7 linked regions of the Homo sapiens genome follow. The protein of the gene in region 1 purifies or fractionates together with the protein of each later gene. This does not show direct contact. Each region holds a gene or a part of one and is shown in the gene's direction. Other genes may lie near its edges.

Region 1 (3,500 bases):
CTTCACATCACACTGTACAGAGGGAGCGGTGACCAGGGTCTCTGCTGCCAGCGCCACCTCGTCCAGGTTTTCATAGCGCACAGGGAGTCGGGCGGATGCGCAACATCTCCGCACAGGGTCAGGAAGCGGCGGTCAGGCACCGAGAAAACAGCCCAGTTACGTGAGGCAGTGTCCGGGGCTTAACGTTTCCGCCGAGCTAATAGATTTGGGAGGCTCCGACCCTGATTTTCACACTAGCAGGAGGGAGGGCGCTGGGTCACCCTCCTATGCAGAAGGGCAGCCAAGGGTGCGCACTTCCCCATCCCCTGCCTGGAGCCTCACTTCCAGCCCAGCCTGGGCCCGCAGACCACCGCGGGTGGGAGTGCCGCATCGGAGGTGAGGCCTCAGTGTTCACCCATCTGTTCTGTCTGCCTCATTCCCCAACCTGAGAGTCTTTCCCCTTTTCTTCATCTTTTTTTTTTTTTTTTCTCTAGAGAAACTCACTGCAGAGCTGGGTAAGTTCTGGGTGCGGGGCCACAGTGCTGCCTGTCAGCCGGACCCTGTGCCTGTGCAGTGGGAGGAGGGGCTCCCTTTGGACAGCGGCTGGCAACTATCTAATTCTAAACCATCCCTGTGAGCCTCCACCTCTTCCCTTGCTAAGGGGCTGAAAGGATGGCTGCCTGCCACCGTGCAGCTGCCCGAGACCCTCTGCACAGACCCTGCCAGCTCCTCCCCTGCAAATTAGACAATTCAGTTAAAATTCATCATAAAACGTTTACTGTCTCCGGTTCATCTTCTTAAAATATCCTTTTCTTTTTAATGCAAATGGCACTAGGAAGGGTGGCACCTTTAATTTGCACCAAAATGGAAATAATTTCTCAGATCCACTTTTCTCCCCAGAGGGACTCAGAGACGTGAAACCATGGGATGTGTCTCTGTAGAGAGGAAGAGAGAGTGAACCCAAGGGAGGGGGAATGGAGGAAAAGGCCATCATGGTGTTGGGGTTGGGGGGGCAATTCAGATGAAACTGTAAGGTTGGGAAAGCTTGTCTGGCAGTCTACCTCGCCCTTCAAGGGGAATGAGAAAAACATAGCCCTAATAAGTCATTAAGGCTATAGTCTGAATTGTAAGTCATAACACTATAGCATGAATGCCTCTCCCAGGAGCATTTACTTTTGAAAGAGCTTGACATTGGGTGGACAGATCAAAGGAATGCATTTTTAGTAGCAAAATGTTGGAGTCCTTGGTAATTATTTGGGGAAATAATTGGGTGTGATGTCCTTCCAGTCCTTCAGATAACGCACCCGGTGAGTGACCGTGAGGCTCACGTAGGCGGCCCTCAGTGCCTGCACTTAGGCGGGAGCTCCGCCCCAGGAAGCTTGTGATTTCAGGCAGAAGGAACAACCCCAACCCTGGGAAGAGGCCTGTCAGTACTAAGATCTGGTATCCCTTCTAGGCTGTGTGCAGATTTCCACCTTTGAGCTAAGATAGGATGAGGCATAAGAGTCCTGCAGATGGGCCTCTTTTTGAGGGCAATGAAGGGGCAAAGAGGAAGCTGTAAAAAAAAAAAAATGAAGCTGTGATTAGCAGTGGCTTAAGACTAAGGAAGCTCTTCCCAGTGGCCTGTCTTGGGAAGATGGTTCCACCCACCTGCAGGCTGAAGTTTTCTTTGTGTGTTCTGCTTGCAGAAAAGCTTCAGACAGAGCTTGGTAAGTGACCCCTCTTAGAACTATTTCTCCTCAGGGCCGGGTCCAGTGGCTCACACCTGTAATCCCAGTACTTTGGGAGGCCGAGGCGGGTGGATCACGAGGTCAGGAGATCGAGACCAGCCTGGCTAACACAGTGAAACCCCGTCTCTTCTAAAAATACAAAAAATTAGCCCGGCGTGGCGGCATGTGCCTGTAGTCCCAGCTACATGGGAGGCTGAGGCAGGAGAAGGGCGTGAACCCGGGAAGCGGAGCTTGCAGTGAGCCGAGATGGCGCCACTGCACTCCAGCCTGGGCGACAGAGCGAGACTCTGTCTCAAAAAAAAAAAGAACTATTTCTCCTCATTCATCATTTTGCATCTGATTCCCCATATATCTTCTTCTCATCTCCCAACCAGGTATGATGCCCAGGCAGGACCCCTGCTGGCTATGTGGGTGGTGGGGGGTGCGGGACAGGGTGGGTGCAAGATGTGATGTGTGAGCAGGGAAGCTTGGGGTCCTGATGTGCTAATTTCCTGTTTTCCCTTGGTTGCTTCAGACTGGAGACGGGCTGAAGGCCAGGCTGGTGAGTGGAACCCATCTCTCTCTGACTCCTCCTCATTTATATCTGAGCACCCCAGTCCAACTCACCTGATTAACCAATCAGGCTTCATTCTGGTTGCATTCCGTGGCCTCACACAGCATGTGTTAATCTATGTCACTGGGTAGAGGTCATACTCTGTCCTGAGGACTAAGTGTACTGCAAACCACTAGTTCCAATCCTGGTTACATATCAGAGTTACCTCGACTCCTGGTGCCCATCCTCCAAGACTCAGACTCATGGTTCTGGCATGAGTGTGTTGCTGTACATGTAAATACTTCTCTGCATACCTCCCTCTATTCACCCATAATGCAGACAGTCTAATGTATATATTTTGTATATATTCTTGCAAAATGTGAATATCGATGTATGCATATGCATCTTAGTTCATGTAAGTGACATTTATGGTTCTGTGATGTTCCTTGCTTTTCCCGTATGCATCATCATGCTTTAATATCCATCGCTGCCACTCGTGTGCATTCAGTCTGTTTTTCCTCCTTACTGCAGAGTGCTTCGTTTTAGCCAGCCACCCTCCTGGAGAAGGTATCCAGGCTGCCTCTAACTCCACAACAACACTGAATGCATAGTCTCAAACGTGTTGCCTTACGGCGCTGTGTGGAGATTTCTCTGGGGTATATAACTAGGAGGGGGACTGCTGGCCCATGGTGGGTATGTCCACTAAGGGGATAGTGGGATCCCAGGAAGGCAGTGTCGTTATCCTGCCACCAGCCATGCAGTGAGATTCCATGTGCCCACATCTCATGTGAACCAGCATTCCAAGTTTGCCAATCAGTGGGGATAAGTGATGGCTCATTGTTCTTTAGGTTTGCAACCTCTGAATGCTGAGAAGATTGAGCATCTCTGTATATGCTAGTTGGCTCTGGGGACTTCCTCTACTGAAAATTGCCAGCTCACATCACTGACCCATTTTTCTTATGGGATGGCTGTCTTTTATTATTAACAGGAATATTATATATCTGTGTGTGTGTGTGTGTGTGTGTGTGTGTGTGTGTGAGATTAATCCCTCATGGGTAAACATCGTGAATTCCTTCTTCTGTTGTGCCATCTGCCATTAGCTTTGTCCATAGTTCCCCTTATTGAAAAGGAATTATTAATTTTGATAAAACATAATCCATCAACTTTTTCTTTATGGTTTGTGTTTTTGAAGTTTTGTTGAAGACCTTCCTCACACTTAGGTCACAAAGATTCTCTTACACTTTCTTCTATTTTTTTTT
Region 2 (3,500 bases), on another chromosome or scaffold:
ATGTTGGCCAGGCTGCTCTCGAACTCCTGACCTTGTGACCCACCTGCCTCAGCCTCCCAAATTGCTGGGATTACAGGCATGAGCCACTGTGATGGGCTTTTTTTTTTTTTTCGGAGACCAAGTCTCACTCTGTTGCCCATGCTGGAGTGCAGTGGTGTGATCTAGACTCACTGCAACCTCCGCCTACCGGGTTCAAGCAATTCTTTCACCTCTGCCTCCAGAGTAGCTGGGACTGCAGGCACACACCACCACGCTCGGCTAATTTTTGTGTTTTAGTGGAGATGGGGTTTCACCATGTTGGCCAGGCTGGTCTTGCACTCCTGACCTCAAGTGATCCGCCCACCTCGGCCTCCCAAAGTGCTGGGATTAAAGGCATGAGCCACCACGCCTGGCCACTATCCCTGTTTGCATAGAGCAAGATACTGAGGCTTAGAGCAGTCATATAACCCACCCAAGTTCTCACTACAGCATGGTGAGCGCGATTCCCACTGACTTCAGACCTGCCCTGTGAATGATTCCCCCACTACACTCCCAGCCTACCTACACTCCCCACTACCTCTCATGTCACTGTGACATGAGACGGAGAGGAAGGTGTTATCAGTGGCATGGTCACTGCCATCTTACCTAATTACGGTACAGGTAATCCCCAAACTCATGCCTCCTGACCAGTACAGATTTCAAGAAGATCGTTATTTTGCTTTAGCTATGAAAAAGAAGAGAGTTGTTTGTATTTACTTTGTTGGTACAGTTTTTGCACATGGAACACCATAGAATGGAAGTATACAAGGATACGGAAGACCTAGTGGAGCTGTGTAAGCTGGCATGTACCTCTCTGCTCAGTGATGTGAAAAAGCCCTACTTGATTTGTCATTTACATCTTTGCTGTAGTTTTATTTTCTTCCTCTCTATTATGCCCTAACAGTTGACTGCCTTTGCATACAAAGATTATTTATCATTTGGATATGTATATGTGGGTTTGAGAGGGACGGAAGAGATGACAAGGCGGTACAACATCAATATCTACGCCCCTACCCTCTTGGTCTTTAAAGAACATATAAACAGGCCTGCCGATGTTATCCAGGTACGTGAGGGTCACCTTGGTTAAGATTTTCTTCACATTTTATCCCAAGATTTTATGTAAATAAACAGCAAAATTGAACAAAGTGGCTGAAGGAAAGGATCTTCCTTCAGATGCACAAAATTTTTTAATGAATTTTTTTATCTAACTTGGTACCGTTTGCTTTAAAATTTTTAATTTAAAACGTTTAAAAATTTTAGCACCTTTAAAGGGCTCCTGTTGGAAAACCAACAATCTTTTTCCAAAATGAATTTAAAAGTTAAATGTAAAACAGTAATAAAAAGGAATAAGAAGAAGCCACAAACTAACTGAGAGAATGTACAGATGAATATTTATCTGATCTTAAGGTAGGAAAGGGTTAAAAAGCATTGGGGAAAAATCTTGGAAAATCTTGATAACTTGACTCTAAATTTTATGTTTTTATGTAAATACTTTAAAATGTAAAGTTAAAAAACTGGGGGAATATTTATAACAAATATTAAAATGTTGATATTTTTAATTTCTAAAGAGCTTTTAATCAAGAAAATCATAAAATTCTGAGAAGACTAATAACCATTTTTAAAAATTAAATCTCACAAGTAATCAGAGAACATTAACCTTTTTTCACCCATCCAACTGTCAAAGATTTTCTAAGTTAAAATAGTACTGTTGAGGGTATAGAGAAACAAGTACTATCTTGCTAGAGGCAGTCCACTCTAATGGCAGCTCAGGTGTCCTGTGAACACAGAAGGGTACCTGAAACCATGGAAACCAGATGGGAAAGTGGACCGTAAAGAAAGAAGAGCAGGTTTAGAAAGATAAGAACTTTGGCTGTGGACATACTGAATTAGAGCTGCCTGTAGGAAATAGAAGGGGAGAAGTCCTTTCTACAGTTGGGTATAGGAATCGAGATCTTAAGAAAAGCATACAGGCTGGGGATAGAAACTGGTGTATCATCAGTAAATGGTTAGTGGTTGAAGTCCTGAGTAGGGTAAGATCTTCCCGGCATAATACCGTAGTCTCCCCTGATCCACCCCACTTACCCCTTTTTCAGTTTCTGAGGTTTCAGTTACCCACAGTCAACCAGGTCCAAAACATAGGTGACTACAGTGCAAGAAGATATTTTGAAGCCGGGCGTGGTGGCTCACGCCTGTAATCCCAGCACTTTGGGAGGCCGAGGCGGGCAGATCACGAGGTCAGGAGATTGAGACCATCCTGGCCAACGTGGTGAAACCCCGTCTCTACTAAAAATACAAAAAATTAGCCGGGCGTGGTGGTGGGCCCCTGTAGTCCCAGCTACTCGGGAGGCTGGGGCAGGAGAATGGCGTGAACCCAGGAGGCGGAGCTTGCAGTGAGCTGAGATCACGCCGCCCACTGCACTCCAGCCTGGGCGACAGAGCAAGACTCCGTCTCAAAAAAAAAAAAAAAAAAAAAGATGTTTTGAGCGAGGGGGACCATGTTCACATCACTTTATTACAGTATATTGTTAGAATTGTTCTATTTAAATATTGTTGTTGTTAATCTCTTGCTGTGCCTAATTGATAAACTTTATCATAGGTATGTGTATAGGAAAAAAACATAGTTTGTATAGAGTTCAGTACTATGTGGTTTCAGGCACCTACTGGGGGTCTTGGAACGTATCCTCTGCAGTTAGGGGATGACTGCTGTATGTAAAGTAAGGCCAAGGAGGCCAAGGACAAAACTCAGAACAGCCACCGGCACACAAGACAAGGGGGTGCCTGATGGAGACGAGAAGGTGCTGCAAGTCAGGAAGAAAACAAATACCAGTGTCCGAATAGAAAAGAGAAGATAATCTCAATCCAGGGTAAATGGATGAGGATTTCCTAAATTGGTCTTTCGGAACAGTTTATAGTTCTGAGAATTATATTTATTTATCCCACTGGGGAAAATTGTAAATCAAATACATTTACAAAATTATTGGTAGAATGGCTGCTTTACCAGCTTGCTCTTTGTGGATATCAAGTGTATGCTTAACAAACTCAGTTTTCACAACAGCAGGTGGCTTAATGATCACTAGTAGCACCAGTGGTTTCCTGTTGCTCTAGGTAATTTGTTGTCATTGCTATATGGTATTTATGGCCATTATAATTTATTGAATCATTCTTCCGTTGGTGGACATTGGGGGCTTTGAGGAATAGTGTTGCAATGAATATCATAACCTAAGTACAGAGTTCTCTAGGACAGCAGTTTTCAGAATGTGGTTGATAGACTCCTGGGGATTCTCAAAGATCCTTCAAGAGAAAGTCTGTGAGATCATATCAAGACACGATTTGCCTTTTTCACTGTGTTGACATTTACACTGATAGTACCAAAGCAGTAGTGGGTGAAGCTGCCAGTGCCAGTGCATGAATCCAGGCAGGGCACCAGGCCACCTACCATCATTGTGTGCTTCACCCCCAATCACTCGCAGCAAAAACAAACC
Region 3 (3,500 bases), on another chromosome or scaffold:
GATAAACCTGATGAGCCTCTGCCCTCAGTGAGTGTACAGTCCAATGGAGAAGATGCTCTGGTGGCCAGACTTGTATTGCAGTGTGAGAAGTGCTATAAAGGAGGGGTGCAGAGTGCTCTGAAAGGATCTTGTCCAGGGAACCATTGTGCTTAGGGGCTGTGGATGCAGGGGTAGGGCAGGGAGGTCAGTCATCCTTGAGCTGGGACATTTGAGCTGGGCTCTTGATGGGTGAATAGGAGGAGCTCAACAGATGAAGAAGAAGAGCGGGGATAGAAGGCCTATCTTGGGCAAAGAGGCACATCGCCTGGGTTGCCAGGCTGAGCTGGGCCCCCATGGACTGCAGCAGAAACACAACTTGGAGACCCTGGGTGCCATCTCAGAATGTCCCCTCAGCTGAGCAGACGTAGGGGTGCATGTGCTCACCTCAGGCCTTGGCCTGGCTCAAATCCAAACCTCCTCCTTCACTTTACCTTTGCCCAGAGGTGGGCACAGTCAGTCCTGCCATCCTGCCCATGCTGCCAGCCCAGCCTCCTTCTCTCTCCTAGCAACTTGTGGCTAATCTACCTGTTAAAAATAAATAGGTCATCGACCAGTCCACCCCTGGTAACAGGGCACTGTGGGCTGCAGTGACATCTAGGAGCAGGTCTGAGTCTGCACAGATGAGAGCCAGAATCCCAACTGTGATAGATTTTGCCACAGGAGGCGGGGGTCAGGGCTCTTGGTTGATTTGCTCAACCATGCTGGAAAGCAGGGCCAGCGTGGGGTGGTAGAGTGGCCCAGCAGGGTCAGTAAAAGCTGGAGGCTTTCTCCGAGGCAGCCTTACAGTATCTCCTCGCTGCTCTGTCCTGTTTTCTCCTGAGACTCCGCTCTCACATGCCTGCAGGAGCCAGTCAGTGGGTGAAGTGGGCCTAGTGGGGACCAGGTGAACTGGGGAGAGGGCAGCCACAACCTGATTCTAATCAGGTATTGTCACCAGGGATTGTAGGCCCCGTTGTACTCAAATATTCTGTTTTCAAGATAATCTGGAAGTCAGTGTTTTGTTTTTGTTTTTGTTTTTGTTTTTTTTTGAGTCTCACTCTGTCACCCAGGCTGGAGTGCTGTGGCACGATCTTGGCTCACTGCAACCTCTGCCTCCTGGGTTCAAGTGATTCTCCTGCCTCAGCCTCCCAAGTAGCTGGGACTACAGGTGTGCACCACCATACCTGGCTAATTTTCGTATTTTTAGTAGAGATGGGGTTTCCCCCTGTTGGCCAGGCTGGTCTCTAATTTCTGACCTTAAGTGATCTGGCGACCTTGGCCTCCCAAAGTGCTGGGATTGCAGGCGTGAGCTGCTGCGCCCAGCCTGGAAATCAGTATTTTTTTTTTTTTTTTTTTTTGAGATGGATACTCGCACTGTTACCCAGGCTGGAGTGCAGTGGCACGATCTCAGCTCACTGCAACCTTTGCCTCCCGGGTTCAAGTGATTCACCTGCCTCAGCCTTCCCAGTAGCTAGGATTACAGGTGTCTGCCACCGCGCTCGGCTAATTTTTGTATTTTTAATAGAGACAGGGTTTCACCATATTGGCCAGGCTGATCTAGAACTTTTGACCTCAGGTGATCCACCCGCCTCAGCCTCCTAAAGTGCTGGGATTACAGGCGTGAGCCGCCATGCCAGGCCAAAGTCAGTATTTTTGTGTCAACTTTCCCAATGTTCAAATGTTGACAAGTAATTTAAATTTTTGAAAACATGTTTGCAAGCTGGACACAGCTGAGGGCTACTAGTTTCAGACCTCTGCTCCTACCCTCTTAATTTTGGCGGGAATGGTGCCCAATTCCCGCACCATTCCTCGACTTGGAAAGTTGGCCCCAGCCTCAACTTTCCGTGGCTTCCAGCTTAGACTCCCACTGCAGTTTCAAATGCCTGGGACAGCATCAGGCTTTTGGTGTCAGGCCCCATGAATCCCTCACCTCCGGGTGGGTAGCCCTTGCCTCTGGTGCCCACCCTAGGTCAGTGAGCCAGTCAGCTATTGGCGCTGGTCTCCAAAATATGCCCATGCCCATCAGCATGGCGTGGGGCAGTGGTTTTCAAAGTGTGGTCCCTGACCCTCAGTGTCCTCCAGGAATTTGTTAGAAATGTGGATTCCTGGGCCCCAACTCAGACCTGCTGATTCAGAAACTCTGGGAATGGGGACTAGTATTATTTAACAAGCGCTGCTGGTGATTCTGATGCTGGCTATAGCTGGAGATCCACTGCTCTAAGGGCAGGGACTGAGCCGGTTCTCTGAGATGGGAGTGGACAGGGCTCGCCCTCCTCCATCTGTTTGGCAGACAGGCCTCTAGCTCTGACTTGGACACAAGGTGTCTGTTCAACCTTCTGGTATCCCTTGGCTGGGCGCGGTGGCTCACGCCTGTAATCCTAGCATTTTGGGAGGCCGAGGTGGGCGGATCACGAGGTCAGGAGATCAAGACCATCCTGGCTAACACAGTGAAACCCCACCTCTACTAAAAATACAAAAAATTAGCCGGGCGTGGTGGCCGGCACCTGTAGTCCCAGCTACTCGGGAGGCTGAGGCAGGAGAATGGTGTGAACCCAGGAGATGGAGCTTGCAGTGAGCTGAGATCGTGCCACTGCACTCCAGCCTGGGCAACAGAGCAAGACTCCATCTCAAAAAACAAAACAAAACAAAACAACCTTCTGGCATCACTTTCTCAGCTGTTGTGAGATGTGGATGATGTCCTGTGCCATTATAATAATGGCAGTGCCATTTACTGAGCACACACCATGTGCACTTAAAACACCATGAGGCAGGTACTAGTCTCATCCCTGTTTTCAGACAGGTAAACTAAGGCTTGGAGAGGTGAAATGACTTGCCCAAGTTCACACTCATAAATGGCTGAGGCGGGGGCCACCGATCCTGAAACATTATGCATTTAGCCAGCATGCTGAGCCGTTGCTAGTCTGCCACTATGTGGCAGTTGGTGTCACACATATGTGGGTCTCCTTGTAGCCCAACCATGCCCACTGCCCAAATAATCCACCATCATGTGGCACTTAACGACGGGGAAACATTCTGAGAAGTGCATCCTTAGGCGATTTTGTCCTTGTGTGAACCTCATAGAGTGTGCCTACACAACCTAGATGGTAGAGCCTACTACACTCCCAGGCTATATGGTGTGGCCTGTTGCTCCTAGGCTACAAACCTGTATTGAGTACTGTAGGCAGTTGTAACAGAGTGGTATTTGTGTGTCTAAACATAGAAAAGGTACAGTAAAAATAAGGTAGAAAAGATTAAAATGGCATGCCTGTATAGGGCAGCTCCATTAAAATCTTTTTTTTTTTTTTTTTTGGAGACGGAGTCTCTCTCTGTCGCCCAGGCTGGAGTACAGTGGCATGATCTTGGCTCACTGCAAGCTCCGCCTCCCGGGTTCACGCCATTCTCCTGCTTCAGCCTCCCAAGTAGCTGGGACTACAGGCGCCCGCCACCACACCTGGCTAATTTTTTGTATTTTGTTTAGTAGA
Region 4 (3,500 bases), on another chromosome or scaffold:
GAAGAGAGAGTGGGTTAGGTGGTGGGAAATGTTGGGGGGCAGAGCAAATACCATGTGAGACAGCCACGGGAAAGGGGCCTTCCAGAAAAAAGAAGGAAGGGGTGGAGCTGTGTGATGGAGTGAGGGTCCAGGGGTCATGGGTTGGTAGGGAATGTCATGAGGTGAGGCTGGAGACACAGAATGAACAAAAATCGTGCAGGGCCTTATAAGCCATATTAAGCATTTTGGATGTTATCCTAAGATTCCTGTTAAGCAGGGTAGTGATGTGATCAGATTTGCATTTAAAATTTGCATTTTAAGAGGTTTTCTAGGTTACTTATGTTTTCAGGCCACTTTTAATTTCTGGAAGATCTAACTGCCACCTGCATATTTAGGGAGGGGTGTGTGTGTGTGTTTAAAAAACAGCTTTATTGGGATATAATTCACATACCATGAAATTTATCCTTTTAAAGAGTACAATTCATTGATTTTTAGTATAATCACAGAATTATGCAGCCATCACCAGTATTAATTTTGGAACATTTCATCACCCCAAAAAGAAACCTCATGTCCATTAGCAGCCACTCCACATTGTCCCAGCTCCCCAGCCCCTGGCAGCCACAATCTACTATCTACTTTCTATCTCTGGATTTGCATATTCAAGACATTTCACGTAAGTGGAATTACACAGTATGTGGTCTTTTGTGACTGACTTATTTCACTTAGCATAATGTTGTCAAGGTTCATCCATGCTGGAGCATGAAGCAGTGCTTCATTCCTTTGTATGGCAGAACATGCTATTATTTTATATGAATCTATTATCACATCTTGCTTATCCACCATTTGATGGACATTTGACTTGTTTGCAGTTTCTGACATTGCTGCTGTGAAATCGACATTTGTGTCATGCAAATGGTCAGAAAGGACATACGTTTCACCTTTCTTTTTAAAGAGAAGAGCTTTGCTCTATTTTTGTTCTGTAGCACATTCTGTTCAATAAGCAGTTTCTTTCCAGAAAGACCTGTGTGACAGTAAGGGTTCAACCACACGTGTTAATGTTGATGAATTGAGAAAAATGCTATTAAAAACTTGAGTTTTCCTCTTGGTGCTTGAAAGCACTATTTGCAGCTAATGGTGCCAGTTCCTGCTTGGTTCTAGAAGTCAGAATCTATTGTTGTTCTAGTCCATTTACAAGTGGATGCCAAGGAATTCTTAGCTCCTCTGTTTCACTTGAATGACTTCTCATCCACATTAATAAAATGTACCTGATTGCCTATTATCAAGGTGATGGCTTTCATCTTGATTAGCCATTTCAGAGAATAAAAAATAAATAAAAGTCAGAGTGGCCTCCATATTACAGAGTTCAGAACGTGCACCAGGAGGTCATGAGTATAATAAAAAACGGTTTATGACCTGCACTGGAGCATAACTTCAGGCACAATAAGTATTAAGAATTAGAAAATCATTAAGCAAGAACATTTTCAGACCAAGGGAAAAAATGTAGGCAGTGAATGTAAAAAGCTTCATAGCTTGTCATATAGAGTAGGAAAAATAAAAACAGTTTTATATATAAAGTCCAAGCAGTTTTGATAACTGTGATGAAATGGCAAATTAGCACAAATTAGTCCACAACTGGAAAGGTTTGGTTTACCCAGTTTAGGGAACAGAGTTTGTAAAATGATTAATCTCTGAAATTTAACGTGCCTGTTTGTTTGTGTTGATTTGTAACTAGTTCCTTTTAACGTTAGCATCAGGAATGTTACTTAAGATTTCACTGAACATTAGTAAGCTTAGGATGACTGTAAAGCTGGTCTACCAATTGTGCAAGCACTTATGGGACGTCTACTGCTGATAAAAGGTCGTATTTGTCAAGGGGAAGCAAATTACTCTTGGCCAATTGACTGGGAAAAATTTGTGTTTCATGGCAGATAATGGGTTAATAATAATTGATATACTTTGTAGTTTCATCACTGTACTTAAGGGGCTTATTCTTATTTCTCAGGCTATGTTAGAGGAATCTCACTGCTATTATTATTGTAGGATTCTCACTACGTGCTTTGTATTATGTTGAGGACTTGCCTGCATTATCTTGTTTAATCCTCATCGTACCCTGCCAGGATATATAGACCCCAGTGACATCTCTAGTCTACAAATGAATGGAGGCTGAGAGATTTAAGTGATTTGTCTGAGCTCACATAGGAAGGGCAGAGCCGGGACTTGATTGTGGGGCTGACGCTAAAGCTGATGTACAGTCTGCTTCCCCACCTCTCTGGTATGCTGACTCATTTATTATGAAAGATTAAATTTCATCTACAGGTGAAGCTTTTTGAATTTTGTTCTAGAATGTGGATTCTGGGTAGAGCCAATTCCTGGAAATCTGGTTCTTAGCATGTTACTATTTGGTCTTCTCGTTGATTGCAGTATGACCTTAAGTAACTTCTTAATCTTTCTTGAGCACATGTTGCCTCTGTAAGAATGTCATATGACCTATTTGTAAAGCATACCTCAAGATTTCTAAAGATCTCTTTTACATAGTCCACAAGAGGAAAGGCAACTTAATCTGGTCACTGGAGTGTTAAATTCTGTTGCTTACTTTGCTATTTGGGTTTGTTTGGTGATTTTGAGTTAAGGCATTGGATTATGTGACTGTTTTCTTGTCTAAAAACAAGGATGCTGCTAGCTGTTTGCCTTCTGATGTTGAATCTCAGTGAAAGAGAGGCCAGCAGAGCTTTCTAAATCTCGGGTACAGTGACTGAAGCACTGGGCTGGGAGTCCGAGTGCCTGAGCTGTGGTCTGGTTCTGCTGCCTACTAAGCTGAATGACCCAAAAGCCTCTCCACCCTTCCCTCACCCACTCTACCTACCTTGAGGGCTGTAAGAGAATTAAATGAGAAGTCATGTCTGAAGAAGTACTTTATATTTTATAGGTTATATGAGTATACGAAATGATTATTCTCAGAGTATCATGAGATGGTAATATTTGGAAATCTTAGATGTGATTTAGTCTTCTGGTTTTTTGTTTTTGGATTTCTTAGGTGACACTTCGGTTGTGTGTTTTAATTTTTGTTCTTTTTTTTTTTTTTTTTTTAGTGGTATGTGTGCAACAGAGAGAAATTATGCGAATCACTCCAGGCTGTCTTTGTTCAGAGTTACCTTGATCAAGGAACACAGATCTTCTTAAACAACAGCATTGAGAAATCGGGCTGGCTATTTATCCAATTATATCATTCTTTTGTGTCATCTGTTTTTAGCCTGTTTATGTCTAGAACATCTATCAATGGGTAAGTGAATCTTGGACATTTATTTTTTTCTTTATCCTTAGGTTTACAAAAGGAAAAACACAAAAAGAAAAGTTATCTTGTTCAGCATGTTGACTACCTGAGCTACAATACTTCTACTAGTCAGAACCTTGGCAGTTGGTCCAGCGTTCTATCTTTCTGTGGTTCTGCCCTTTAAATTCACCATAACGTGACAGCCTCATTAGTATGTTTATTCATAGCGGGAGTTACTTACGGTAGTGCT
Region 5 (3,500 bases), on another chromosome or scaffold:
TAAATGTATTAAGGTATTATGTTACATTTTGAGCAAATGAAATGACATGGTACAAGAAAACAATAGTTTACAATACTTTCAACTCAAGTAGCAGAGTGACCATGTGTATTTATCTCTTCTCCCTCTGAGACCCCATTACCTGATGGTAGAGCAATTTTCTACACATACTGTTGAGCAACTTAGGACAGTCATTTCATCCTTCTTTAGGCTCCTTATGGCCTCTTTCAAGATCAGGAAACGGTTTTGGAGAAATAGAATATGAATTTCTGTTTTACTGCAATCTTTTTCTTCATTCTTATCCTCAGTGTATTTCCAAATTAGAAAAGGACATTCTTCTTGACTCACACTTTGAAAATACGATTTTACCATCTTCTAACATTTTAACAGCTTTTCTGTGACTGGCCACCTTGATAGCCATTTGGCAGGTTCATGTCCAAGGAGTCTATCGCCTTTCATTTCTGTAAGGTCCGAATCTCACTAAGTTCTGCAGGTTTTGAGAAAACTGAAAGGTGGCAAACATCACAGGGCAGGAAACTACTGCCTCATAGCAATGCTGTGTGCAAGGCATGCAGAACATTTAGCAGGCAAGAGCTCTTCATTTTCTTTGGTCAGAAGTTTGTAGACTAAATGGAATTTGCTGCAGTTTACATATGCCCTGTCCCCAAATAGGCAGATAGATGAGCAGACTCTAGTTTGTGCTTGAGCAAGATATCAGCAATCTTTTGTTTTCTGTTTATGTGGAAACATTTTTGTTTTCCTCTACTGATACTGGACAAATATGGTTGAGTGTATTTAAATTCAAGTTTCATCCTTGAGAGCATACTGAATTAAAAATATCACAATTAAGTTTGTTTCGTAAGTGTTCTAAAGTTTCTTTCCAACAGATGACATAGTTGGCTGGTTGCAGGGAAGGGAAATCATATGTTCTACTTTTCTTTGAAAGTTATTGTATTAGGGTTCTCTGGAGGGACAGGACAAATAGCATAGATGTATATATGAAGGGGAGTTTATTAAGGAGTAGTGACTCACATGATCACAACGTGAAGTGCCACAATAGGCCCTGTGCAAGCTGAGGAGCAAGGAAGCCAGTTTGAGTCCCAAAACCTCAAAAGTAGGGCTGACAGTGCAGCCTTCAGTCTGTGTCTGAAGGCCCAAGAGTCCCTGGCAAACCACTGGTGTAAGTCCAAGGGTCCAAAAACAGAAGAATCTGGAGTCCAGTGTTTGAGGGCAAGAAGCATCCAGCATGGGAGAAAGATGAAGGCCAGGAGACTCAGCAAGTCTGTTCCTTCCATGTTCTTCTGCCTGCTTTATTCTATTTGTCCTGGCAGCTGATTAGATGGTGCCCACCCAGATTGAGGGTGGGTATGCCTCTCCCAGTCCACTGACTCAAACGTTGATCTCCTTTGGCAACACCCTCACAGACACATCCAGGAACAGTACTTTGCATCTTTCAATCCGATCAAGTTGACACTCGATATTAACCATCACAGTATCTCAGGTATTATTCTACATTTCATAGTTAAAATGTGGATAACTTTATTATTCTTGAATAAAGCAAGCATATCAATTTTAGCAGTTTTATTTGCTGTCATCTTTTATTTTCCCTTCTGTCCCAGAAGACCATTTCATGGAAGGTCACTTATTGTTTTGTCCAGTTTTGAGTTAGTATGAATTACTACCTCATTAACTTTGGGGGATAGGGGGAAGGGGATAGGTACTGAAATTCTCTTTGATGCTGTTAAAAAAATGTTAAATTTCAGATACTGTACCAAGTTATAATTTATTAAGAATAGTTTCCTATAAAGGGTGAATAAAATGACAATGAATATGTGTGTGTGTATATATACATATATATATGTGTATATATGTTTATATATATATATTTTTTTCTTCTAAAGCCCAAGGTAGGTATAGATGTGTGTGTGTGTGTGTGTGTGTGTGTGTGTGTGTGTCTTTTCCCCTTTCCCGCTTTGTAACTGTGAGAGCCCCAGGTGTTTAGGGGCTGCCCCACGAGTATTTCCCTTGGATAAAAATGTTTACCTTGTCTTCTCAGGGGAAACAACTCTCCAGTTTCACTGTAGATCAGCCATTCCTTTCTTGGATTCTGTGCTTTCTACTCTGAAGTAATTCCTGTTGAACTTTTGAGATTCTGCTCTAAAAAAGATAGGCAGCCAATTTTTTTTTTTTTGAGACAGTTTCACTTTTGTTGCCCTGGTTGGAGTGCAATGGAACGATCTCGGCTCACTGCAACCTCCGCCTCCTGGGTTCAGGTGATTCTCCTACCTCAGCCTCCCAAGTATCTGGGATTAGAGGCATGTGCCACCATGCCCGGTTACTTTTGTATTTTTAGTAGAGACAGGGGTTTCACCATGTTGGTCAGGCTGGTCTTGAACTCCTGACCTCATGTGATCTGCCCACCTCGGCCTCCCAAAGTGCTGGGATTACAGGTGTGAGCCACTGGGCCTGGCCTAGGCAGCCAAATTTTATTGAAGCTACCTTTCATTAAGCTACCTTGGAAAAGGGAGCTGAGGCACAGGAAGCAAACTGAACCATCCTAATATTTTTAGAGATTGAGCATTTGTCATTTCACCAAAATTTATTTCAATAATAAAAGTCCCTTTGACTCCACATTTGATTAGTGGTACTGGAAAAACAGGTACTGCTTCCTCTTCCCCCTAAACTTTCACAGGCAAAATACATTTTCTGTCTCTTTCTCAGTCACTAAGTAGGAAAGGAACATAAGACCTTCTAAGTTGTTTCTGAATATAGCTAGATTTTTTGCTGGTCTTGATCTTCTTTTGGGATTGACCATTATGTTCTCTGACTACCATATAACTGTATGTTATAGTATAGACTTAATCAAGGATTTTGAGGAAGTTAACTAAGTTGGTGTGTGAGAGATACTGCAGAATTTTGGTATTTTGAATGTTATATACTTTATTTTTTTCTAGGAGAGAATATTTGTGAGAATTATGTAGAATCTAATTAATTTAACTATTCCCAAACCACCCCATCATCTTTCACAGTTATTGTTTATCATTTAGCATGATTTTCAGAGCTTGTGCTTTATACATTGAGTTTGAGTTTCAAGAGATGGATATGTTTAATTTACTATTTTGATCATTAGCCTTCTATATTTTTTAAATATATACTGATGTCTGAAGTTAGAGCTTTTAATTAGAATTGTGTCTTGCGTGTGTTAGTTTTGTTAATGCTGGCCTTCATGTTTGTGATGCCAGTAGTACCAAAAACATAGTTCTGCTTGGTAAGTTGCAAACCTTCCCATGAAGTGCTAGCAGCAAGAATGGAGTGAATGTTTATCCTCACAGGGCCCAAGAGCATAGCCCACTCAATACCTGCAAACCCAGCACTTTGTTTTGTATTATGTCCTACAAAATGTGCATATTTTTACTTTATTTAACGTGATATTGTCAGAGGCATGGGAACCAGAACAACTCCATCTTGAATAGGAGCTGGGTAAATTAAGTTGAAACCTACCA
Region 6 (3,500 bases), on another chromosome or scaffold:
TGTCTTGAGTTTACTAGCCCTGTTATGTCCACAGTTCTAACATGTGGTATGTATGACTCCAAGTAAATGTCGTTTGATTACTGTAGAACTAATTTATGTAAATAAGCAAATATTTCTCTTCAAGGCGAGATGATCCTTACTGGAGCGAGAATAAAAAGTTGTCTCTAGATACAGATGCACGATTTGGCCATGGATCCGACTACTCTCGCCAACAGAACAGATTTAATGACTTTGATCACCGAGAGAGGGGCAGGTTTCCTGAGAGTTCAGCAGTACAGTCTTCATCTTTTGAAAGGTAGATATGTTGAAAATTGTTATATTTATTTTATGAGCCTTGCTAGTGATAACTCTGTTTCTCCTAAAATCTTAACTGGAAGTACCAGGTCAGAACTGAATGCTCAGAACAATTTACGTGGTTTTTGTTTCTGTTAATGGGAATGTGATTCAGTATTCCAAATTAATTAACTAGAACACCATTAAGCAGGTTGGCTTTATCTTCTTATCTTTATTCTATTTTAATTTTTTTTGAGACAGGGTCTCATTCTGATTCCCAGGCTAGAACGCAGTGGTGCAATCTTGGCATACTGTACCTCTGCCTCGTGGGTTCAAACGATTCTTGTGCCTCAGCCACCCAAGTAGCTGAGATTATAGACATGCACCACCACCATGCCCGGCTAATTTTTGTATTTGTAGTAGAGACGGGGTTTTGCCATGTTGGCCAGGCTGGTCTAGCACTTCTGACCTGAAGTGATCCACCCACCTCAGCCTTCCAAAGTGCTGAGATTACAGGCCTGAGCCACCACTCCCCGCCTCTTCTTATCTTTAAAACTGTGGAAGCACTGATTGCTTTGGATATGCCTCAACTGTTAAGAACAGTAAAACATTCTTCAGCTTGGTAGTGACTTTTGAGTGTTCGGTATCATTTCTCCTGAATGCTAAAAAACCAACCTTTAGGCTAGACACTTAGTTCAGTTTAAAAGAAAATGAGTTGTAATAATCAATAACTAGCTTTTTTCCATGGCTTTGCCTTAAGTTCATTTTTTGGTTTCATTATTGTAGGTTATGCAGACAAAGTTAAGAAGAATTAAGCACTCAAGTAAGCACTTCTTGGACCTATATTCTTTGTTTCTAATCAATAGGCGGGATCGCTTTGTTGGTCAAAGTGAGGGGAAAAAAGCACGACCTACTGCACGAAGGGAAGATCCAAGCTTCGAAAGATATCCCAAAAATTTCAGTGACTCCAGAAGAAATGAGCCTCCACCACCAAGAAATGAACTTAGAGAATCAGACAGGCGAGAAGTACGAGGGGAGCGAGACGAAAGGAGAACGGTGATTATTCATGACAGGCCTGATATCACTCATCCTAGACATCCTCGAGAGGCAGGGCCCAATCCTTCCAGACCCACCAGCTGGAAAAGTGAAGGAAGCATGTCCACTGACAAACGGGAAACAAGGTAGCTGTGTACTATGTAATGCTTTCCTAGTGGTCTCATGCATTGGGGTTAAAAAAAGTTAAGATTACAGTTTTGATCATGTATGTTTTTATGTTTTGTTTAACAGAGTTGAAAGGCCAGAACGATCTGGGAGAGAAGTATCAGGGCACAGTGTGAGAGGCGCTCCCCCTGGGAATCGTAGCAGCGCTTCGGGGTACGGGAGCAGAGAGGGAGACAGAGGAGTCATCACAGACCGAGGAGGTGGATCACAGGTAAGTGCTGCGGGAGGCTTGCCGCGAGCCTGCACACATACATTTAGAGGATTCATGAGCTACTCTGGATATACAGTAGCATTTTGATGTGGCTTAGATTAGCTAGATTGGAATGATTCAGAGGCATTAATTTTTTATTTAAATTTTTAAAATCTGAATTTTTCTCATACTTTACTGTCAGTAGTTGACCATCAGTAGTCCAAAGAGTTAAGGTACTAGCCTTGAAATACTCCATTTCGATTAAACTTCCCAGTGAAATTTAAGAATTGTTAATTTGGTAAGTGAGCCTATCTAATGATAACTTTGGTTTTATTTCTTTTTAAGAAATTGAGGCTTTCAAACTGCATCTGAAATCTTTGGCCCCTACTTGTGTTTCCTTTTCAATAAAATATTCTTGGCCGGGCATGGTGGCTCATGCCAACACTTTGGGAGGTAATCCCAACACTGTGGGAGGCCGAGGTGGGCAGATCGCCTGAGCTCAGGAATTTCAGACTAGCCTGGGCAACATGGTGAAACCCCATCTCTACTAAAAATACAAAAATTAGCCGGGCGTGGTGGTGGGCGCCTGTAATCCCAGCTACTCTGGAGGCTGAAGCAGGAGAATCACTTGAGCCCAAGAGTTGGAGGTTGCAGTGAGCCAAGATGGTGCCACTGCACTCCAGCCTGGGCTACAGAGCCAGACCCTGTCTGGAAAAAAAAAAAAAAAATACACACACACACACACACACACACACACACACACACACACACACACACTCTTCTTTTTCTCCTGCTTCATTTAAGTAGCTTAAAGTGTAAAATTGAAATAGAACTTTTGTCTATTTTTTGTCTTCTTATCCTAAAGGTAGATGAGTGTAATGTTACATATTTTTAAATTTTTACTCTTGTGACACTTTATTGACTTGAATATTTTGTAAGTTAATGAGCTGGACAGAGGAAAGTGTCTTTATCTTTTAGAGACCGAAATGAACAAAAACCTTTTGCCTCATTTAAAAGTATTCTTCTACTGATGAAATACTGGCGTGTGGGTTGATAGTAGCACAGTTAGGACATACTTTCATAAATTATATACCAAAAAGAATTGTGCAGTGTGTGTGTCTCCATTATATGCTGGTGTTTGTTTTGTATTTTAATACAGTGTGTGTGTGTGTGTTGTTGTTTTTTTTGTTTTGTTTTGTTTGTTTGTTTTTTGAGATGGAGTCTTACTCTGTCAAACAGGCTGACATGCCGTGGTGCGATCTCGGCTCACGGCAACCTCCGCCTCCCAGGTTCAAGCGATTTTCCTTCCTCAGCCTCCCGATTAGCTGGGACTACAGATGTGCGCCACCACGCCTGGCTAATTTTTGTATTTTTAGTAGAGGCGGGGTTTCACCATGTTGGTCAGGCTGGTTTCAAACTTCCGACCATCCACCTCTGTCTCCCAAAGTGCTGGAATTACAAGCATGAACCATGACGCCCACCTCCTAAAAAGAATTTTTAAGACTGAGTCTATAATCCAAATAAGTCTGCCTTGTTTATAGTAAAATTTAAGTATCAAAGACTAGCCCTCCGCATTCAGAGGTCCTTTTAGAAAATGTGTCCTGAGGAGGAGATCTTGTATCCTCCCTTGAAAATTTTCTTTTTCATAATGTTAGTCTGTAAATTGTTCTGCCAGTATTATATCTAAGCCTCTCTGTGGGTACCTTCTGCTTTCTTTCCTGTAAGCTAAGTATCACAATGCTTGCTTTCTCTTTCCATAGATCTCTAGTTCTACAGTTTCTGTTTCTTTGTGTTTGCTACTCTGTTTTCCATAGTT
Region 7 (3,500 bases), on another chromosome or scaffold:
CAGTGAGTCATTTCATGATAGCAGCACGAAAAAGCACACTAACCAGTATTAGAGATAGATTTAACATTTTTATTAAATTATTGTTGTTATTTTTCCAGACAGGGTCTTGCTCTGTCACCCAGGCTGGACTACAGTGGTGCAATCATGGCTCACTACAGCCTTGAACTCCTGGGCTTAAGTGATCCCCTGACCCCCAGTAGGAACTACAGGTGTGGTGTGCACCACCACACTTGGCTGATTTTCTTTTTTAAATGTTTGTAGAGATAGGGTCTCACTGTATTGCCCAGGCTGGTCTTGAACTTCTGGGCTCAAGCAGTCTTCCCCCCTCAGCCTCCCAAAGTGCTGGGGTTATAAGCATGAACCACAACACTCAGCTATATTTGTATTTTTTTTATTTATTTGGGTTTTTTTTGAGACAAGATCTTGCTCTGTCACCCAGGCTGGAATGCAGTGGCATGATCATAGCTCACTGCAGCCTCAACCTCCCAGGTTCAAGCAATCCTCTCACCTCAGCCTCCCGAGTAGGTGAGATCACCAGCATGTGCTACCACTCCTGGCTAATGAATGAATGAGTGAACGAATGAATTTATTTATTTATTTAGAGATGGAGTCTCGCTCTGTCACCAGGCTAGAGTGCAGTGGTGCAATCTCAGCTCACTGCAACGTCCGCCTCCCAGGTTCAAGTGATTCTTCTGCCTCAGCCTCCCGAGTAGCTGGGACTACAGGCACGCGCCATCATGCCCAGCTAATTTTTGTTTTGCAGTAGAGACAGGGTTTCACCATGTTGGCCAGGATGGTCTCAATATCTTGACCTCGTGATCCACCCACCTCGGCCTCCCAAAGTGCTGGGATTACAGGCATGAGCCACCATGCCCAGCCTAATGAATTTATATTTGTAGAGACGGGGTCTCTCCCTATGTTGCCCAGGCTCATCTTGAACTCCTTGGCTCAAGTGATCCTCCCACCTTGGCCTCCCAAAGTGCTAGGATTATAGGTGTGAGCCACCACACCTGGCCTGATTGAATTTTCAACTTGTAAAAAGCTTAGTCTTCTTTTGAGTCTTACTTCTTCAAACACCTTATCCTATATCCTTTTCATAGTAGTCATCCCTTAGAACTTTCCTACTCTTTTATGGCCCTCTTGTGTGAAGCAAAGCTAGCTGAAAAATACCAATCCCTGTGATTCAGAAGCAGTTAGGAGGAAAGTTGGTCTTACATAATAGTTTTTAAGAGGGCTTTGATGAAGAACTGCAAGTGCTGGTTAAGGAAAAATGAAATCTTAGGTAACACCTTCATTGACTTTATAGCTATTCTCTTCTGATCAGGCTTGGAGCCTGAAGAGAGCTTTAGGTGCCTTTCAAATATCAGTGTTTGATATATATGTGTTGAAGCCATGGATTAGGGGTTTGTCCAGTATTGACTTTGGTTTCTGTTATCAGGGTGCAGCCAAAGTCCTGATCTTTCCCGTGGTACAGCAGTTCACAGAGGCCTTTGTTCAGGCCCTCCAGATACCAGATGGCCCCACATCTGACAGTGGGTTTAAGATGGAGGTCCTAAAGGTAAACACTTACTACCAATGAAATATTTGGAGTTTGAGGGGCTGGTCTGAAATCATTTATTTCTTATATATCACTCATAACTTGGGTCCTTTTCTCTTAACTTCTTAGGCAGTGACAGCCCTAGTGAAAAACTTCCCAAAGCACATGGTGTCCTCCATGCAGCAGATTCTGCCTATTGTTTGGAACACCCTAACCGAGAGTGCAGCTTTATATCCTTTCTTGAAAGTTTAAGGGAGCTACTACCACCTATAGTTAGGAATCTCGCACTGGGTTTCACATTCATATGGTTCCACTCTTCTTACACAGGCTTTTTTAAGGTGTCTACTTTTAGTGTTGGAATATGTAACATTTCCATGTAGATTATATGTAAAGCAGACTCCAAATTCTATTTCTTTACTCTTCATCATACTTATGTGAGGACAGAAGTAAATTACACAGAAGAAGTAGAAGATCCTGTGGATTCTGATGGTATGTAGTTTATTTGATCTTTATAGAAATACCAGTTAGTGGGAAAAGAAAAAGAAGCCAGAGATGGGGGCGGGAAACAGTAACTTGAGAGGCTTCACTCTATTAAGTGTTTTCTAATTCAGTTTATTTTCGATGTATTCGATGTGGGGAAATGAGAATTGACAATCTTTAATCTGTTCCACATAGGTAGTTGCATAAATCTCATAAAATCATAGAATTTCTGCATTGGAAGAGATACTTTTAAGGCCATTTAATCTAGCCTACTTCTGGCATTTTGTTGTGTTTCATTTGGGGGTCCCAGATCATGAATCTTTCGTTTCTGTTTTAACATTTCTCATTATTTCAGATTAGAACAATAGACATACTGGAAAATATATCCAGTGTTTCTGATTCTTTTACTTGAAAAACCAAAGAATATTTAATATCCTCAAAATTACGTTTTGTGACCTCTGAGCCCTCTCTCCCAATTCCTCAGGAATGATCATTAGCAAGTACTTTAAATATTCAGTAATTTACAAAGGTTATGTAGTTCATTTTCTGCATATATGCTTTCCTTTTGCTTTCTTGTCATTAATTTCTTCTCTTCTGTATTTCCTGCAGGTGAAGTCCTGGGCTTTGAAAATCTCGTCTTTAGCATTTTTGAATTTGTCCATGCTCTACTAGAAAATAGCAAATTCAAAAGCACTGTTAAGAAAGCCTTGCCTGAATTGATTTATTATATTATCCTGTACATGCAAATCACTGAGGAGCAGGTAAATAATATTTGAGAGACAGTTACCATCTTGTATTTGGAAAGTGCAACTTGAAGAATATGAGGTCTTGGTCAGGTGAACACTTTATTTCTAAAAATAGACACAAAAAGAATAATTTCATGTGAAGTTCTGGGAAAGGTTTGACATCATTTTATTGCCAAATCCAAGGTTTTGGAGTTCACCACCATACCTGGCTTTTTTTTTTTTTTTTTTTCCCAGCAAAGTACTATACTATGTTGCCCAGGCTAGTAGTCTCTAACTCCTGGGCTCAAGCAATCCACCCACCTTGGCCTCTCAAAGTGCTGGGATTACAGGCATGAGTGACTGTGCCTGGCCCACTTTTGCCATTAGAAAATCTCACAGGACCACTAACCTAAGACACTGATTTTTAGGAGAATCTGTTCCTTCCCTAAAGTAAAATGTAATAATCAGACCATTAGCCTGATGGTGGGTCATCAAAAGCAGCAAAGAACGTTCAAAAATTAGATAACGCCTCGTTTAAAACAGCACAAGAATTGACATAATTTTCACAATAAATAGTCTATCAGACTTAATCTATTCAGAAAATCGATCTATCAAAGGGTAACAGCAGGTTGACATTGGCAGAGAGCTAGTAATCAGCCAGATTCTAAAAGAGAGCAATAGCCATTGCTACCTACCTTGCTACTTAATAGTATTTATTTCTCTACATCAAAAAGAAAAGATTTTTTTAAGCTAGAGTT

The links.
Region 2: the proteins of BTNL9 (region 1) and DNAJC16 purify together in Homo sapiens (affinity purification with mass spectrometry; one large-scale study listed by BioGRID and IntAct). This does not show direct contact.
Region 3: the proteins of BTNL9 (region 1) and CAND2 purify together in Homo sapiens (affinity purification with mass spectrometry; one large-scale study listed by BioGRID and IntAct). This does not show direct contact.
Region 4: the proteins of BTNL9 (region 1) and METTL9 purify together in Homo sapiens (affinity purification with mass spectrometry; one large-scale study listed by BioGRID and IntAct). This does not show direct contact.
Region 5: the proteins of BTNL9 (region 1) and DYM purify together in Homo sapiens (affinity purification with mass spectrometry; one large-scale study listed by BioGRID and IntAct). This does not show direct contact.
Region 6: the proteins of BTNL9 (region 1) and SLTM purify together in Homo sapiens (affinity purification with mass spectrometry; one large-scale study listed by BioGRID and IntAct). This does not show direct contact.
Region 7: the proteins of BTNL9 (region 1) and IPO9 purify together in Homo sapiens (affinity purification with mass spectrometry; one large-scale study listed by BioGRID and IntAct). This does not show direct contact.

Annotation. Positions count from the first base shown.
Region 1 is NC_000005.10:181,053,766-181,057,265, forward strand, and holds part of BTNL9 (butyrophilin-like protein 9 isoform a precursor), read left to right. Parts: exon of another isoform or gene 1-266; coding exon of another isoform or gene 267-375; intron 376-473; coding exon 474-494; intron 495-1,667; coding exon 1,668-1,688; intron 1,689-2,223; coding exon 2,224-2,250; intron 2,251-2,772; coding exon of another isoform or gene 2,773-2,852; exon of another isoform or gene 2,853-3,404; intron 3,405-3,500.
Region 2 is NC_000001.11:15,547,348-15,550,847, forward strand, and holds part of DNAJC16 (dnaJ homolog subfamily C member 16 isoform 1 precursor), read left to right. Parts: intron 1-922; coding exon 923-1,081; intron 1,082-3,500. UniProt on the Homo sapiens protein: Plays an important role in regulating the size of autophagosomes during the formation process.
Region 3 is NC_000003.12:12,799,680-12,803,179, forward strand, and holds part of CAND2 (cullin-associated NEDD8-dissociated protein 2), read left to right. Parts: intron 1-3,500.
Region 4 is NC_000016.10:21,609,577-21,613,076, forward strand, and holds part of METTL9 (protein-L-histidine N-pros-methyltransferase isoform 1 precursor), read left to right. Parts: intron 1-3,068; coding exon 3,069-3,259; intron 3,260-3,500. UniProt on the Homo sapiens protein: Protein-histidine N-methyltransferase that specifically catalyzes 1-methylhistidine (pros-methylhistidine) methylation of target proteins.
Region 5 is NC_000018.10:49,373,646-49,377,145, reverse strand, and holds part of DYM (dymeclin), read left to right. Parts: intron 1-3,500. UniProt on the Homo sapiens protein: Necessary for correct organization of Golgi apparatus. Involved in bone development.
Region 6 is NC_000015.10:58,885,180-58,888,679, reverse strand, and holds part of SLTM (SAFB-like transcription modulator), read left to right. Parts: intron 1-124; coding exon 125-295; intron 296-1,059; coding exon of another isoform or gene 1,060-1,078; exon of another isoform or gene 1,079-1,139; coding exon 1,140-1,454; intron 1,455-1,560; coding exon 1,561-1,705; intron 1,706-3,500. UniProt on the Homo sapiens protein: When overexpressed, acts as a general inhibitor of transcription that eventually leads to apoptosis.
Region 7 is NC_000001.11:201,853,157-201,856,656, forward strand, and holds part of IPO9 (importin-9), read left to right. Parts: intron 1-1,438; coding exon 1,439-1,558; intron 1,559-1,666; coding exon 1,667-1,767; intron 1,768-1,967; coding exon 1,968-2,026; intron 2,027-2,626; coding exon 2,627-2,778; intron 2,779-3,500. UniProt on the Homo sapiens protein: Nuclear transport receptor that mediates nuclear import of proteins, such as histones, proteasome and actin. Serves as receptor for nuclear localization signals (NLS) in cargo substrates.